Linked DNA regions of Homo sapiens. The protein of the gene in region 2 binds, or shares a complex with, the protein of the main gene of each other region. Links are inferred from orthologs where the notes say so. Each region holds a gene or a part of one and is shown on either strand. Other genes may lie near its edges.

Region 1 (7,752 bases), on a different chromosome or scaffold from region 2:
TAAAAGAAAAAAATATTTATCTTTGTCAGCTGTAAAATTACTTAAAATTATAGGACTTTTAAATAGTAATTGAGGGCAAATAAAGTATTTAAACGTTAGAAGTCTTCCTAGTGCTATCAACAAAAGATAGTCATGCACAAATAATTTATAAAAATATGTCAGGTTCATTTCACATAGGGACCAATTATACCCCTTTTTAAGGTCTCCTGTAATGTTTTAGCTACAAGCAGTATGTTCACTCTTTCTCATAAATGAATCCTTACATTTTAGAGCATGTACTACTTTTTGCAATCAGTTCTGACCTTTAGAGAAGTTGGAATGAGATATACAGTGTGAAAATGAATTAGTGTTCTTTTAAATCTTGATAATGGGAACTGCATGCTTTCTCAAGAAGCACATACACTACCATTATCTCAAAAGCTTAAGGATCATTGGTAATTAAAATATCCTTTTGCGTGTATAAACTCTGCTTTGCTGAATTAAAGATGCTGTGTTAAAAAGTTGAGACCCGGGGGAAAATACCAAACAAAACCAGAATGAACATTAATTTATATTAAAATAATTCAATTATATATTTTAGAACATAAAAGTTTCTCAGACTTATGTTTCAATCTGTAATGATTAACAAACACTTTTAAGAACACTCTATAATATATGAAGTTCAAGCATACCATAGGTCATCTGTAATTCAGAAATTATTCAGATTTTAAAAGTCAGTTTACACAGTCGGAAAATATAAAAATTTAATATATTAAGAGAAAATATTTCAAAAAAGATCTACAGGGCACAACTTTGATGCAGTGTAACAAGTAAATGAAACAAAATTCAGAAGGCCAAGCAGTTAAAATAGGGGATTACAAGGATAGCAGATGATATATGTCCATTAATTAGTCTAAGATTCAGCCAACTTATATGTCTAATGCACAACACATAATGCATGAAATACAGGTCTACCAACAAGCAAAAATACCAACTCACTTAATATTTGAAGTACTCATTTAAGTATCACATAAAAGTACTTAATGTATAATTCTACTGATAAATTACAGTTTCCATTTATTCATCTATAGCAAAATACCAATCCCTACTAGTCTCATTAAGAAATGTCAAAATATCCAATTTATATTTAAATTTCCTCTGTTAATTGATATTTTATAAACGAGTAGCAAAATTCTTCCAAGTCTAAGTTATAAATCTCAGAACTCACTGAAGGATTTGTGAGTTAACTTGTTTTGTTGTTTTTTATTGTTTGGGGTTTTTTAAAATCTTATTTTGTTATAAGCATTAATCTTAAGGCTTTTTCATACATGAAAGATACATGAATCATATAGTAAACCAAATTCTAAAGATACATTTCACTTAATCTTCAGCCTCCAAAAATATGCATCCTTATATCTACATATAGAGTTTGTATCTTTTAGTTAAAACACAGATTTCTGTATTTAAATATTTTTACAAAAAAATCAAAATATCTGAAGTTTAAAGAAGTCTTCCAGAAATATTAAATGATACAACAAATATTGAAAATGAGCATATTTTTAAGGCAAATATAACTATAATTTATCCACCTGTATAATAAAGAATTTCAAGTTTATTCACCCATCCTCCATAATTCATACAGGTAAGCCAAAGCAATAACTATACCAATCACTACTCGGAAGCCATCTTTGGAAACATTCCACATAGAATTCCAGTTTATGTCTCTCTGATGTGGAAAGAGAAAAGTCATTCTTCCCTGACCCAAGTCACAGAAAAAAGAGTAACATTTTAAAGGCGTAATTCCAGCAAGTGTGACAAAGGAATTTGTAATTTTCATGTTTCTATTTAAACATGAAATGTTTCAAATTTCCAACTGGCTTGTAGTTCAGAAGTTGATGCATGACCTTTTACTTGCTACAACTACCAGAAAAACAGCTCTGATGAACTTTCTGAATACGGTAGTTTAAAAACTAAAAAAAAAAGATCTAGCTGCAAACTATTAATGTATATTTTAATATCACTCTTTAATCCATAATAATTTATGAGAAAATTTTTTGAACTTAAAAATTATATTAATAATGAGCGATCAGAAAACAAATGTCAACTTTTAATGTAGCTGTTTCCTCAAAAACTGAAGGGGGAATGTGGGGATGGTTAATGGATATAAAAAAACAGAATGAATACGATCCAGTATTTCATAGCACAACAGGGTGACCATACTCAATAAATTTAATTGCACATTTTAAAATAACTAAGAGTATAATTGGATATTTGTATCACAAAGGGTAGATGCTTGAGATGATGGGATACCTCATTTACTCTAATGTGACTATTATGCATTGTATGCCTGTATCAATATCTCATATAACCCATAAAAACCTACTATGTACCCATAACAATTAAAAACTAAAAATAAAACTGAACAAGCACCTTGGGAAAATGCAGTACCCTTAAAGACATGTCCATAATTTGAAACTGGGATTTCAATATTGTTTTATATGTTGGCTTTATATTAAATTTCAGACATTTGAAAGTTACAAACCTTAGACAAAACTTTTATTCAGTTTTGTGTTTATTTTTGTCTATTTTTCAAATGTGTATTTATAATTACATAAAAAGTTTACAATATACTTTATGTCCAAATAAAGACAAAAGGCTTATCATACTCAGTCTAAGTTCCATATGTGGCGAATGGTCATTTGCATACTTTATTCCTAAAATTCTTTTCACTGTCACACAGCAAAACATCAACACTTGATAAATTCAAATTATAAATATAACCTTACTGAATGTTACAAATTGGATGCAATAGCTAAGTCTCTTCAAGTACACAGTAACAGTTCTACAGTCCACAGCATGGAGGATGAGGGTAAAGATTAGTAAGTACACTAATAAATTGAGGTCTTTAAAATTAAAACTATTTTTCAGTGGTGTTGCTGCATTTAGTTACAAAAACACTTGGTTACACAAATGTACCTTAGGATTCTGAAAACCGTAACAAAAAGCTTTTGATATAGTAGTCCCTCTTGAGTAGAAACTAGACGCACTCGGTATCTAAGAAAAGTATACGAAATGGCACAGGTGTAAGCCTAGACACTGCTGGTAGTTATCACGCTGGAGGCAAATACTATACAGTCCACATCTGCAACCTAATTTTGCTTCAGCATCCCCAGAGACTTCGAAAATATTTCTTTGGGTAGGTTGCAAAACAGTGCTTCCTCTTTTATTCTCATCACCCCCATTACGATACAAAGCAACAGACAAGAAAAATCAAACTGCCAACTGTAAGGGCTTAAACACACACACAAAGCATCTTCTTTCTAGCTCCCGAATCGGTATTTATTCCACCTGTTTGTAAATCCATAATTCCACAATAACACAAACTGCCTGCTTAAAGAAAGGAAGGAAGAAAAGAAAAAGAAAGAAAAGAAATAAAGAGAAAGGCAAGTTAATGCTTTGGAGTCATTACTCTTCCACCTAGGCATGGGGGGAGGGGGATGGTACAAAAACAATGGATATTGAGGTGCTGGGGGAAAAATCGTCTTGCCCCAAAGCCTCTTGTGTTATGAGCCTGGGGAAGTCGGGGAAGAGTGAGACTACTTTTCCTCTCTCCCTAAAAGCTGTGCTATCACGGGGAGAGGTTGCCATCGGGCATGTTCTACGAGGCGGTCTCGAAGGGCTACAACTCGCTTCGCTAGGCAACACACCCAGAGCCGATCCAGCACTCTTCACTCAAGGGTTTTTAGGGAGAGGAGAACGGGAGAGCAAGGTGGACTCCAGGGAGGGGGCGAGAAGAGACCCCACCCTGTATGACCGCCGCTGCGCCCGGGCCCTCGCCAACGATTTACACGACTCGGGGCGCCCTGCGGACTGGGCCCGGGGGCCCAGGGAGCCGAGAGGAGAGAGACTGTCCGCCGGGGGCCCCCGGCCCGCGCCCTCGCGCCGGCTCGCCGTCGCCCAGGCGCTGTCCGGGCCGCCCGCCGCCGCCGCCGCAGGCCCGGCCCCGGCCGCTGTCACACCCGACCGCCTTCCTCTCCGCGCCGGGCTGCAGGCTCCCACGCGAGCCGGCTCCAAGGGCCCCGCACTCCCGGAGACAGCAACCAGGAAAGCGGCGGCGGCGGCGCCTCCCAGGGCCCCGGCCCCTCGGGCCTCGCCCCGGCGCTGCCGGCTCGCGCCTGTCAGGGCGCACGGGGCCTCCCCCTACCGACAGCCAGCCCGACTGCCCGACGGACAGGAAGGCAGGCAGGAAGAACCGACCAACAGACACCCTCCGCCTCATCGGCCCCGAGTTACCGTCAGGAGCCCCGACTCCGCCATCCTCCTCGCTCGCCCTCCTTCCTCCTCTTCCTCCTCCTCCTAAGAAGCGACGCTGCCCAACCGCCGCCCCCCGCCCGCCCCTCCCCCACTCGCCCCGCCCCGCCCGCCCCGCCACTACTCTCGCTCCAGCCTCCCCGCCCCACCCCTCTGCCGTGGGCCCGTCACTCGCTAGGCAAGAAAAATGGGCGGAACCGGGGCAAGAGAAGCTGCCCAATCAGAGACGGGCAGTGCCGCCAGCTTCTCTCTCTCCGCCCTTGTCCTTTCCTCAGTTCCTCTACGCCGTCTCCCGCCCACTGGGCGCCTCTGGCTAGCCGGGCTACAGAGTAAGCCTCCAGCAGGGTAGAGTGACAACTCCCCGATCGGAAGTTACTGTTGAAGCTAAGGCGGCCATAACTGATAATGGCAAAAGGAGATTCCTGGCTTCCTGTTTCCAGGGTGACGTAGATTTTTTTCCTTCGCCAGTCTCACCGTTACCCGGGGCAACAGCTGAGCCGTCTGGGAAGGGATGCATCTGTAAGTAAGCCCAAAGAGGTACCGTGGGTGACCACACATCCCATGTTAGACAAGTTAATTCATACTCCGGATTACACGTCCAGTTTCCTGGCCCTTATTTTACTGAGACGTCTGGTCACTTACGGAGATGGACAACAGTTTAGGGCTCCGAAATTCCCTCTCCTGCCCGGAAGTTGCATTTGGCACTTCCGAATTGGGTCATGGCGGAAGGGTGTTAATAGCCTGGCCGCCCGTGCCCCAGGGAATGCTTATTTTTGACCTTAGTTGCAAAGTGAGGTGAGTCCGTGGACCCCAACCAGTGGGCCGGACCCGGGCCGGACGGTCCCTGTGGGACAGAGCGCTGAAATGGCGAGCGGGGCTCAGGGCCGCTTCCGTTGGAAGGCGGTTTTTTTCCGGGCTGGCCTGGCGGCGGCCCGCCCCCGTGAGGCTCCCTGTGGGGTGAGGCCGCTCTACAGGCCGCCCTAACCCAGCCAGAGGCAGCCCGGCCGGGAGGACCCCAGCGGGGAATGGGCGGGGACCTCGGGGCGGAGCTCCTAACTCCGGCAAAACGGAGCTCTTGACCACGCCTCCGCAAGTTCCTATTAAGTACTTTCACTCCTTGGCCTTTGGAGGGAGGAGAATTCGGGAACTTCAGAAAATCATTTTCCACCTTCACCTATAAAAGGAAAAGATGAGCCCCTACCACCAGGGCAGGACCTCAATCTTTTTCCCCTGCCACCTGCCTTCCCATTCTGATTTTTCCCCCCTTTCCGCGTCTCTCCTTTGAGTCTTTGTAAGCTTTGACTGCGGTTCTGGTGGTGGGATTCCTGCAGGTCTACAGTTTCTTAAACAACGTGTTGAAGATTTTTGAAAATACTGTATTGCTTTTATATGGCCCTTTACAAAGTTATCATACATTATCTTGTAGTTTCTTCTGTATGCTTGAGTCAAGAACTCTAAGTCATCTTGGTAATACCGGGTTGGATGCTTAAAGCTGCAGCAAAAAGACCAGAACTTTCAGGTAAAATTGAAAATGGTTAATATCCAGCCAGTCAACAATACAGATGCAAACCTACCTTCTCGACTTAATTTCTGCTTCCTTAGTACTTACACGCCAGCCAAAATGAACTACTCTTGTTTCTTTGCTGTTAATTACTGAAATCTGTTGTAGCAGTCACCTTTTGTGATTCTGTATCTGATTCTGTTACCCGTGGAGATGTGTTTCCAGATTCTTCCCAGCAGGAAGTAATTTCCTCTGAGTTTAGCATTTTTTGTACATCTTTTATGACAATCAGTATGTTATATATATATAATAGCGCTTATGTTTTTAGCTTCACTACCATGTCTGCACCTAAATAGAATGGTTTGTATCAGATTCGTCTTCCCGTCATTTTCACCATGCACATGATATTATTTTGGTAAATACTTACTGAAAGTTTGAATATATCGGGTGTCTCTTGGATGCCCAAGACACTTCCAGCCAAGTTTTAGAGACCTTCAATTTATCAGAAATTCAGCTGAGCGCCTGCTACTCAATCTTTGTTTTACGTTTCCCCTGTGAAGTCTTTCTGACATGATTTTTTTCCCCAGTGTTTTATTATGAAAGTGTTCATATATTTAAAAGCTGAAAGAAATAATTTAATGAATATTCATGTACCCATCATCTATATGCAGCAGTTAACATTTTGCCATTTTTTTTCATTCCTCCCCACTTTTTCATTGTCATAAAAAGTTGCAGACACTTATTGTTAGGCAAGACACCCTTAAGATTTCCAGCATGAATTTCCTAAGAATTTTGAAGTTCTCCAGCAAAACACAATATCATTATTTCAGCTGTTTTGTAACTTTTAAAATCTAGGCCAAGTGCTAATTTTCCTAATTTACCCAGGAATATCTTTTATACCTTCTCCTTCCCAATCCTGCAAAAAAAAAAAAAAAAAAAAAAAATCAGGATCCAGTCAAAATTTTTCTTTAGCTTTAATGTAGTAGAGTTCCCCCATCTTTTTTCCCCCTGTGACATTGGCATTTTGAAGAGTTCAAGGCAGGAGTCTTTTTGGAAATGGGCCCCTCTTTTTTCTTCTTGTAAACCAGAAGTTAGTCTAGAGGCTTAAGCTGAACATTTTTTTTGCAAGGATATGTCACAGTATTCACACTTTTCTAGTCATGACTAAGCCTTCTCAAACGCAGCTATACGCACTTTGCCGTGAGTTGCTGGTTAAATCCATCTCACTTCTTAGCATGCTTACCCCTCTCCAGTGTCCTACAAAGAAGAGGGTAGCATTTAATCCTGTGTGTATAGAGTATGTGTTAGTGCCTTGGGTTGGCAACATTGACTACCTTTAATAAAGTGTTGCTGCTACTTTGCCTATTCTTGGAGCTGATGCAATGACTTTCTGCAGTAAAGTGTACTGATGTCAGCATAGTTTATGAGTGTCAACTCCTGGCACCCTGCAGACATTGTTGAAAGATGTGTGGGCCCTGCAATTCAAATACAGATGAATCTTGATGTTATCAAAGCAAATACCAAGGCAACTGTTGGCCATCTGGTCACATTCCAATTTAGGCAATGTTATTTTTCTCACTGAAATTCTCATGCAAGTCTTAATTGGTCCTGGTGTTTTTATGATAGCTTTTTGGTAGCATTAAGCAGAGCCTATTAAAAATTGCAAAATCAAGATTATACTTAACACTTAGTACACTAGATACGTTCTCTGCCCAATGGATAGAGAAGTGTTTGTGGAATTTACTTCCTAATCACAAAGGGAAAACTCAAGACTGCCAACGTCGTATACTCCTCCTAGCCTAGACTTATATTTGATCATGAAAGATAAGTGAAAGGAAAAAACTGCACATAAGGGAGCAGAAGAAAATGCTCTGGGAGGACAGAATTTTTTAGATTGGTATAGAATGTTTTTAGCCATCATATTGAAAATTACATAGTGCATTCTGTTAGTTGCTTCCTTT
Region 2 (7,023 bases):
GACCCCTCTCAAGAACAAAATACAGGGAGGGACTTGTTCTGGATTCCCTTTGGGCAAATGCAGCTGCAATACTCAGCAGGCTTGGCCTCAACTTCCAGGGCTTTTGTTTTTTTTCTTTTAAATGTATACTATTAAAGTTGGATTATTAATCTAATATTTGTGTTTGCCTTGGGGACTAATAAACCTCACAACCTGAGGATCACCTCAGTTAAACCAAGGCTTTGTCATCACAGAGCTACTCAGCAGAGGTCTGTCTCAGCTGTTCCTTGAACTAAGGAAGGAGTCAGTCAGCTAGGAGAGAAAAGTCCTTTTGAAAGCAGACAGCATCATGTACCTTGCTGACTCAGCTACATACATAAGGCCTCAAGCCTTGCTGCCAGTTCTTAAAGGAACTGTGTTCTCTTTTCACTTTTCCTGGCTTATGGGGCAGTAGAGGGTTTCCGACCTCAAATGCCAATACCAGGTAGGTAGAAGGACCTTAGGCTCAACTGCTGGCTCCTCGTAATAACACACACTGTATTCTGTGGTGGGTGCCACTCTGCTCTGCCTGTGTCATGTCACCTTTCCTAATCCAGCACATCCTCGCCCAAGAAAACCCTATTTTGGGGTCATTCATTCTATTCTTATTTCTCTCTTATTTGTTCTGATGTTTCAGTTGGACTTGATTCCACCGCAGGCTCTGGCTCCAGAGGAAGAGATGGGGGCTTTGTGAACTGGGATGTTCCTCCAGCACCTAGTAACAAAATAAAAACTTGAATCCTCATGTTCCACAATTTCAGAAGAAATCATTCTTTTTTGCTGTTAGAGTTCAAGAGGAAACCCCATATTTTCTGGAACCAGTGGGACTGACCCATTAACTATAAGGGAAGACTATAACTGAGAAATAAAGCAACAGTCAAGTTTGCCTTCAATGAGTCACTGAAAAATATTTACGTGTCAACTTCTGATAAAGCAGTAAAAATTAAACATTGCATAACAGGATATACTTAATAACATATTGCTAAAATTGGAAAGACCAGTGTATAGACCATCCAACTAAGTCTGTGAGTAGCTGTTACCTACTACATAGCTCGCCTTAAGGAAACAAGTGCCAATTTAGCCACCCTGTGTTTTTTTTCTCCCCTTGTGGCCAATACTACGTTGGACATATGAGTCTGAAGAGAACCTCACTGAAAGCTATAATCTCTGCTGACAGACACATGTGGCTTGTACCTGCCAGGTCTTCATGGAGCTCTGTATGGTCCTACCTGAGGGGAGCGTCCTGTATGCAGCTGCTGAAGACATTGCCTGTCCTAGAGCTTGATTAGAGCCCAGAGGCTGCTGGAAACTGGCAGGTTTGCTGGTTGAAGTGGTCTGGTGCTTTGATTTGGGATCTTTAACTGGTTTGGTCCAGACCAGTGCCTCCCCAACCTGGAGAGCAGCTCCCAACTTCTGAGCCATCTCCACCATCTTGTGTCCACAAAGGAAGTAAAAGAATCAAAAGCGTGACTGTCAGAGACAAGCCAACCCACTTCTTTGGTCTTCGAGCTGGGGTTTTAGCTGAAATAGTGTCTGGTCGTACTAGCAGTTGAGGCAGGAAGTACTTATCAAACAGTAGAGATTACAGATTGCCTTTACTGGATGGCATGGTGGTTCACATAGGATCTCAAAACCCAACAATTCAAGCCTGGTGCATTACCGGGCCAAACAGTGCATTTCCTACAACAAGTGAAATAGGGCTGGGCACGTGGATCACGAGGTCAAGAGATCAAGACCATCCTGGCCAACATGGTGAAACCCCGTCTCTACTAAAAATACAAAAATTAGCTGGGCGTGGTGGCACGCGCCTGTAGTCCCAGCTACTTGGAAGGCTGAGGCAGGAGAATTGCTTGAACCCAGGAGGCGGAGGTTGCAGTGAACTGAGATTGCGCCATTGCACTCCAGCCTGGGCAACAGAGCGAGATTCCGTCTCAAAAAAAAAAAAAAAAAAAAAGTGAAATAGAAGGAAGCTACAGACAGACACAGACCTCAACTTTGATGAGTTGAATTAGCAATAACAACTCAGTAAGCCTGAATTTCCTTTTATTATTATTCTAGGAAAGTTTTTCTCAGGCTGTTATTAATTGATGAACTCATGCTGCTAGGAACATCAAAGCCAGAACAGCCATGAACGTGTAATACCTTGGATTTGGATGATCTGGGCTTGATTTTTAAAAGTCTCCTGAGAGCTTACTTATGACTCTTGGGAGCTAATAAAAGACATACCTCAGAGTCAAATTCCAGAGAGCTATTGTCCTTGAGTAGGCTGACTTTCTTCTCCATCTCCTGATATTGGGCCAGGGCGTTCTTCTTCTCGCCCTGGTTGTACAGCAGCACAGCATAGTTCAGGTTTACTAAAGGGTTACACCTGTGGCAGACAGAGATTCTATGGAGCTGGGGGCTCTGCAACAAATGGTCATTTAGAGATCCTTCTCATTACACAAAAACAAAACAAAACTGGTTAAGTAGAGATTTCTCCATTATGCAGCAAGGTAGGTACATACGTGCTAAGCAGACCTGTGGAGAAGAATCAAGGAGTTAATGGCCTAACAAGCAAAGCTGGTATTGGGACCAAATCTGGCATCTCAGCCCTCAACAGAGACTACCTAGGCCAGGGTTGAAAAAGGGATCTCTACCCTGCTGTCTAGAAGATGCCAGCGGAGTAAATCCTGGAAGAGTCAAGTTTTATCTTGAATTAAACAGCCCAGAGTCCCATCTGATATTCCAGCTAGCCCATAGCTATCAGCAACCCAAGCCCACTGCCAGTTCTGACATTCTCTAGCCTCCTGATTACTCAGTTTAGGACTGGAAACATTTTCTCAGAGTGTCAATTCCTGCTGAGCCACCACATACTTAGGAGACACATCCCTCCACACTGAGGTCTGCTATGTACTAATGCCATAGAGGAACAGCTGGGCTGACACAGGCAGCACCAATGCTATGTATGGCACCACCTCATGGCTTTGGAGAGTCCAACCCCCGCCAGTACCATTCTCAACAAAGTGCATACTTATCCAGGTGGACTGCTTCTGCGTAGGCTCTCTTGGCATTTTCTATATCTTCCAGATTGGTCAGAGCCACTGCAACAAAGAAAGCACTGCAGCTGGAGAGCTCAGCTTAGAAGACAAAAGGAGTATTAAAGACTACCCCCAAAGTAAACTTCACCCTGTCAGCTCATGGCACCAGAGTTTACTAAGTCAGCTTAGATACCTGGTGCTATCTTCAACCATCTCTTCTACAGTCAATCAGTTGCCAGGTTCTATGCATCCTTTTTTTGCAGTTTCTTTTCTGACACTGCCCTTGTTCAGGCCCAAGTAGTTTTAGGCTTTCCATTTATTCCCCAGTGTCAAAGTCCCCACCTGCCTCCATTCCACCTTCCACAGCGCTGCCAGGTATCTCACTGCCTTACAAATCTGACCACATTACCATCCTACTTAGGAATCCTCACTGGCCCCCCACATCTATAACCATGATCTTTACACTTTCATTTAGCAGTAAAACACTCCCCCCACTTTTTAAAATCAGTATTTCCTTGACACCTAATATATAAAACAAAAACAGCTGCTCTGGAAGCCCTGCCCATTCCACCTCCCCACCAGCTATGCACTCACTCCTACCAGGCACCTAAGAGGAGATCTAGGAAGACAGCTGGACAAACATGGCCTCTAAGATAAAGTCCTTGCACTGTACGCATGACCTCCATAATCTGACCCCAGAATATCTTTCCTGATTCATCTCCCATCATATTCTCTAACACTAACCCCCACTAACAGCAAGGGACACTGCAGTTTCATGGCTGCATGCCTTTCTTCACAGTGGCTCCTCAGCCATTCTGTGCTATTCCATTTTAGCTTGTTGTTCAGGATCCAGTTTGAATGCCATCTCTACTTTGTAAAGTTAGCATCGCTGTTATCTCTTACATTATGGCTGTTTACATTTCTGTGTTCCATTAGAACCCAGCTATCTAAAGAAACTATCAACACAGTAAACAGACAATGTACAAAATGGGAGAAAATATTTGCAAACCATGCAGGTCTAATATCCAGGATCTATAAGGAACTTAAGCAAATTTACAAGAAGAATACAATCCCATTAAAATGGGCAAAGGACATAAACAGACACTTCAAAAGAAGTCATGTATGCAGCCAACAAGCATATGAAAAACTCTATCACTGATTAGAGAAATGCAAATTGAAACCACAGTGAGATAACCATCTCACACCAGTCAAAATGGCTATTATTAAAAACTCAAAATATAACATCCTGGTGAGGCTGCAGAGAAAAGGGAATGCTTATACACTGTTGATGGGAGTGTAAATTAGTTCAACCATTGTGGAAAGCAATCTGGCAATTCCCCAAAGAGCTAAAAATACAACTACCCTTCGACCCAGCAATCCCATTACTGGGTATATGCCCAAAGGAATGTAAATCGTTCTGCCATAAAGACACATGCATGTGTGTGTTCAATGCAGCACTATTCACAATAGCAAAGATGTGAAATCAACCTAAATGCCCATCAATGGTAGACTGGATAAACAAAATGTAAATGTACACCATGGAATACGACACAGCCATACAAAAGAACAAGATCGTGTCCTTTGCAGCAACATAGATGGAGCTGGAGGCCACCATCCTTAGCAAATTAATAAAGGATAGAAAACCAAATCCTGCATGTTCTCACTATAAGAGCTAAATGATGAGAACACATGGAGACACAGAGGGAAACAGACACTGGAGCTTACTGGAGGAGGGGGAGGGCCAGAAAAAAATAACTATTGGGTACTAGGCTTAGTACCTGGGTGATGAAATAATCTGTACAACTAATCCCCATGACACACGTGCCTGTGTAACAGGATGCACATGTACCCCTGAACCTAAAATAAAATTTTTAAAAAAAGAGAGAGGAATGGAGTCTCACTGTGTTGCCCAGGCTGTACTCCCAACTCCTGGGCTTAAGCAAACTTCCTGCCTTAGCCTCCCAAGTAGCCAGCACTACAGGTATGTACCATCACACCCCACTTTAGCCTTTTTATTCTGATGTTTTGACATCTGGGGCCTTACTGACCCTGGGGAGACTGTCCCTCCCACAGTCAGCTAATTCCTAGATATAACCCCTACAAGAGTACCTTCTGTATGCAGACCGACCAACCCAGTGTTCATATTCTTAACTGCCTCCTTTACTGGGCCCTGACACTGGGCCAATATTCCCTAGTCCTAGTCACCCGAGGGTCAGGTACCAGACACCTAGAGACAGCCCTATAGCCCAGAGCCCACTGAAATTATTCAAACTGGCCAATCCCCAACCTGGTTAACCTGCTTTCCCGGTCTTGCCCCGGGGAGGGCATTTCTACCCATGAAAACTACAATAAAGAATTGTGCCCACATTTACCCCTTGCTCCCTCTACCTCCTGATTGACCTGGTGCTTCCCCATGTGGCCCTGCACGGTGTAGCATGCCCTCCTTCTCAGGAATTGTAACAGACTATCTTTCCAGTGGCAGATGTCTTCTGATCTGTTGCCCATACCATATCTGAATAATAATAAAACCTATGTTTTTTTTTTAAAGTTATCTTTGTATTCAGGCAACCCTCAAATAACCACAATTGCTTTTGCAAGCTTTCTCTTTTAAATAAGAACCCACAGTAATGAACAAAAAGCCACTGGAAGACGACTGCCAAATGAGGACATGGAAATCTGCTTTGGGTCTTACATTTAGTAAGTAAATGTATATGGAGAAAAAAATTCCTAGAAAGACTAGTCAGTACTTTAAAATGGTTGTGCATAATTGTTAAAGTGTTTGATTAATTTTAACTTATTTTTATGATCAATTTTAGTATTTGCATGGCATAAAATGGAGTTTCAGGAAGAGAATGGCATTCTATATAACATGCTCAGAAGAGATAAGGGTTTCAACATAAGGTAGCTTGACTTGGAAGTATCACCTAGGGGCCAATTATAGTAACAACAATATTGATAATAATAGACCAATTATATAACCACAGTAAAACCAACAGTTTTCAAAAATCAGTATTTCAACAAAACCAGTATTATTAATTGAGAGCTTAATCATGCAATCCTCACATCAGCCCTAGGTACATATAATAAGTAGTAGAGGCAGGACCCTACCTAAAACCCAAGCTCTTAACACTTGCTGTCTGGAACTTAGTTGGACTCAATATATACATAAATGAATTGTCAAGGCAAGAGGAAAAAACTGGTAAAAGGTGAACTAGGGATGATCTTTATTTAACCTGTTGGTCTCTGAGTCAAACTCCCCCAAGTTAGAAACAACCAAGTTCCTTTGTCATCTTTTTCTATTTCTTCAAGCTCCAGGACAGTAATCCAGATTCCTACAGGATCTCTAAGGGAATGGCTCCTATGAGACAGCCACTGATCTTCTATGATTCTAATCCATTTTTCCCTCATTACAGATGGCAGAGAGAGTTTTCCACATAAATGTTTCTTACCTGCCAAGAGCATGTAGAGCTCCCCCATCTTTGGCTGGAAGTTGATGGCCGCACTGAGAAAATGAAAAGCTGATGCATACTGCTGCATGGTCAAATGGACAAGGCCCAAATTATACAGAATCTTCCAATCAAAGGGTGCCAAGTAGTTGGCTCGTTTCAGGCAGCTGATGGCCTATGAGAGAGAAGGGGCACTCAATGAGAAGGGCAAGCTAAACAGACCCAATAACCACATGTAGAAATACAAACAAAGAACATGAGGGGACACTCACCGCCACATATTTCTTCTTGCCAAAGAAACACATTCCAATGTTATTCCAGAGTGGAGGACTTTCTGGAACAGCACAAGCCACAACTCTGTATTTGGTGAGGGCAACATCAAAGTCCCCGTGGGTCTGCATCATGCTGCCTGCTGCCAAGATGGCCTGAAAACATGGCACAGAGAAAGTCATTCAGTCATTCCCAAAAGGCTGTAGCAGTGGGGCAGCTTTCCTGAGTCTATACTCAGCAGGCCCATCAGCATAGATGGGACTGGAAAATTT

Evidence for each region. Proteins that work in one complex are often made in the same cells at the same time.
Region 1: the proteins of BBS4 (region 2) and BBIP1 are in contact, whole or in part, in a cryo-EM structure (PDB 6VBV), measured with the Bos taurus proteins. The link is inferred for Homo sapiens from one-to-one orthologs. Residues at the interface, in NP_001069424.1 of Bos taurus: Leu210, Leu213, Tyr236, Leu240, Ala241, Ser244, Gln247, Thr248, Ser269, Pro271, Asn274, Asn275, Met278, Phe281, Gly282, Lys284, Tyr298, Leu299, Pro301, Leu302, Asp303, Trp304, Lys305, Ile306, Tyr308, Asn309, Leu312, Leu315, Thr316, Gln318; in XP_003587939.1 of Bos taurus: Met7, Phe8, Arg9, Glu10, Val11, Leu12, Pro13, Lys14, Gln15, Gly16, Gln17, Leu18, Tyr19, Val20, Glu21, Asp22, Leu28, Lys30, Pro31.

Annotation. Positions count from the first base shown.
Region 1 is NC_000010.11:110,916,178-110,923,929, reverse strand, and holds the start of BBIP1 (BBSome-interacting protein 1), read left to right. Parts: upstream 1-4,749; 5' UTR 4,750-4,809; exon of another isoform or gene 4,810-5,394; intron 5,395-5,716; 5' UTR 5,717-5,772; coding exon 5,773-5,809; intron 5,810-7,752.
Region 2 is NC_000015.10:72,731,188-72,738,210, reverse strand, and holds part of BBS4 (BBSome complex member BBS4), read right to left. Parts: intron 6,907-7,023; coding exon 6,754-6,906; intron 6,657-6,753; coding exon 6,485-6,656; intron 3,099-6,484; coding exon 3,029-3,098; intron 2,387-3,028; coding exon 2,245-2,386; intron 1,450-2,244; coding exon 1,248-1,449; intron 734-1,247; coding exon 624-733; 3' UTR 1-623.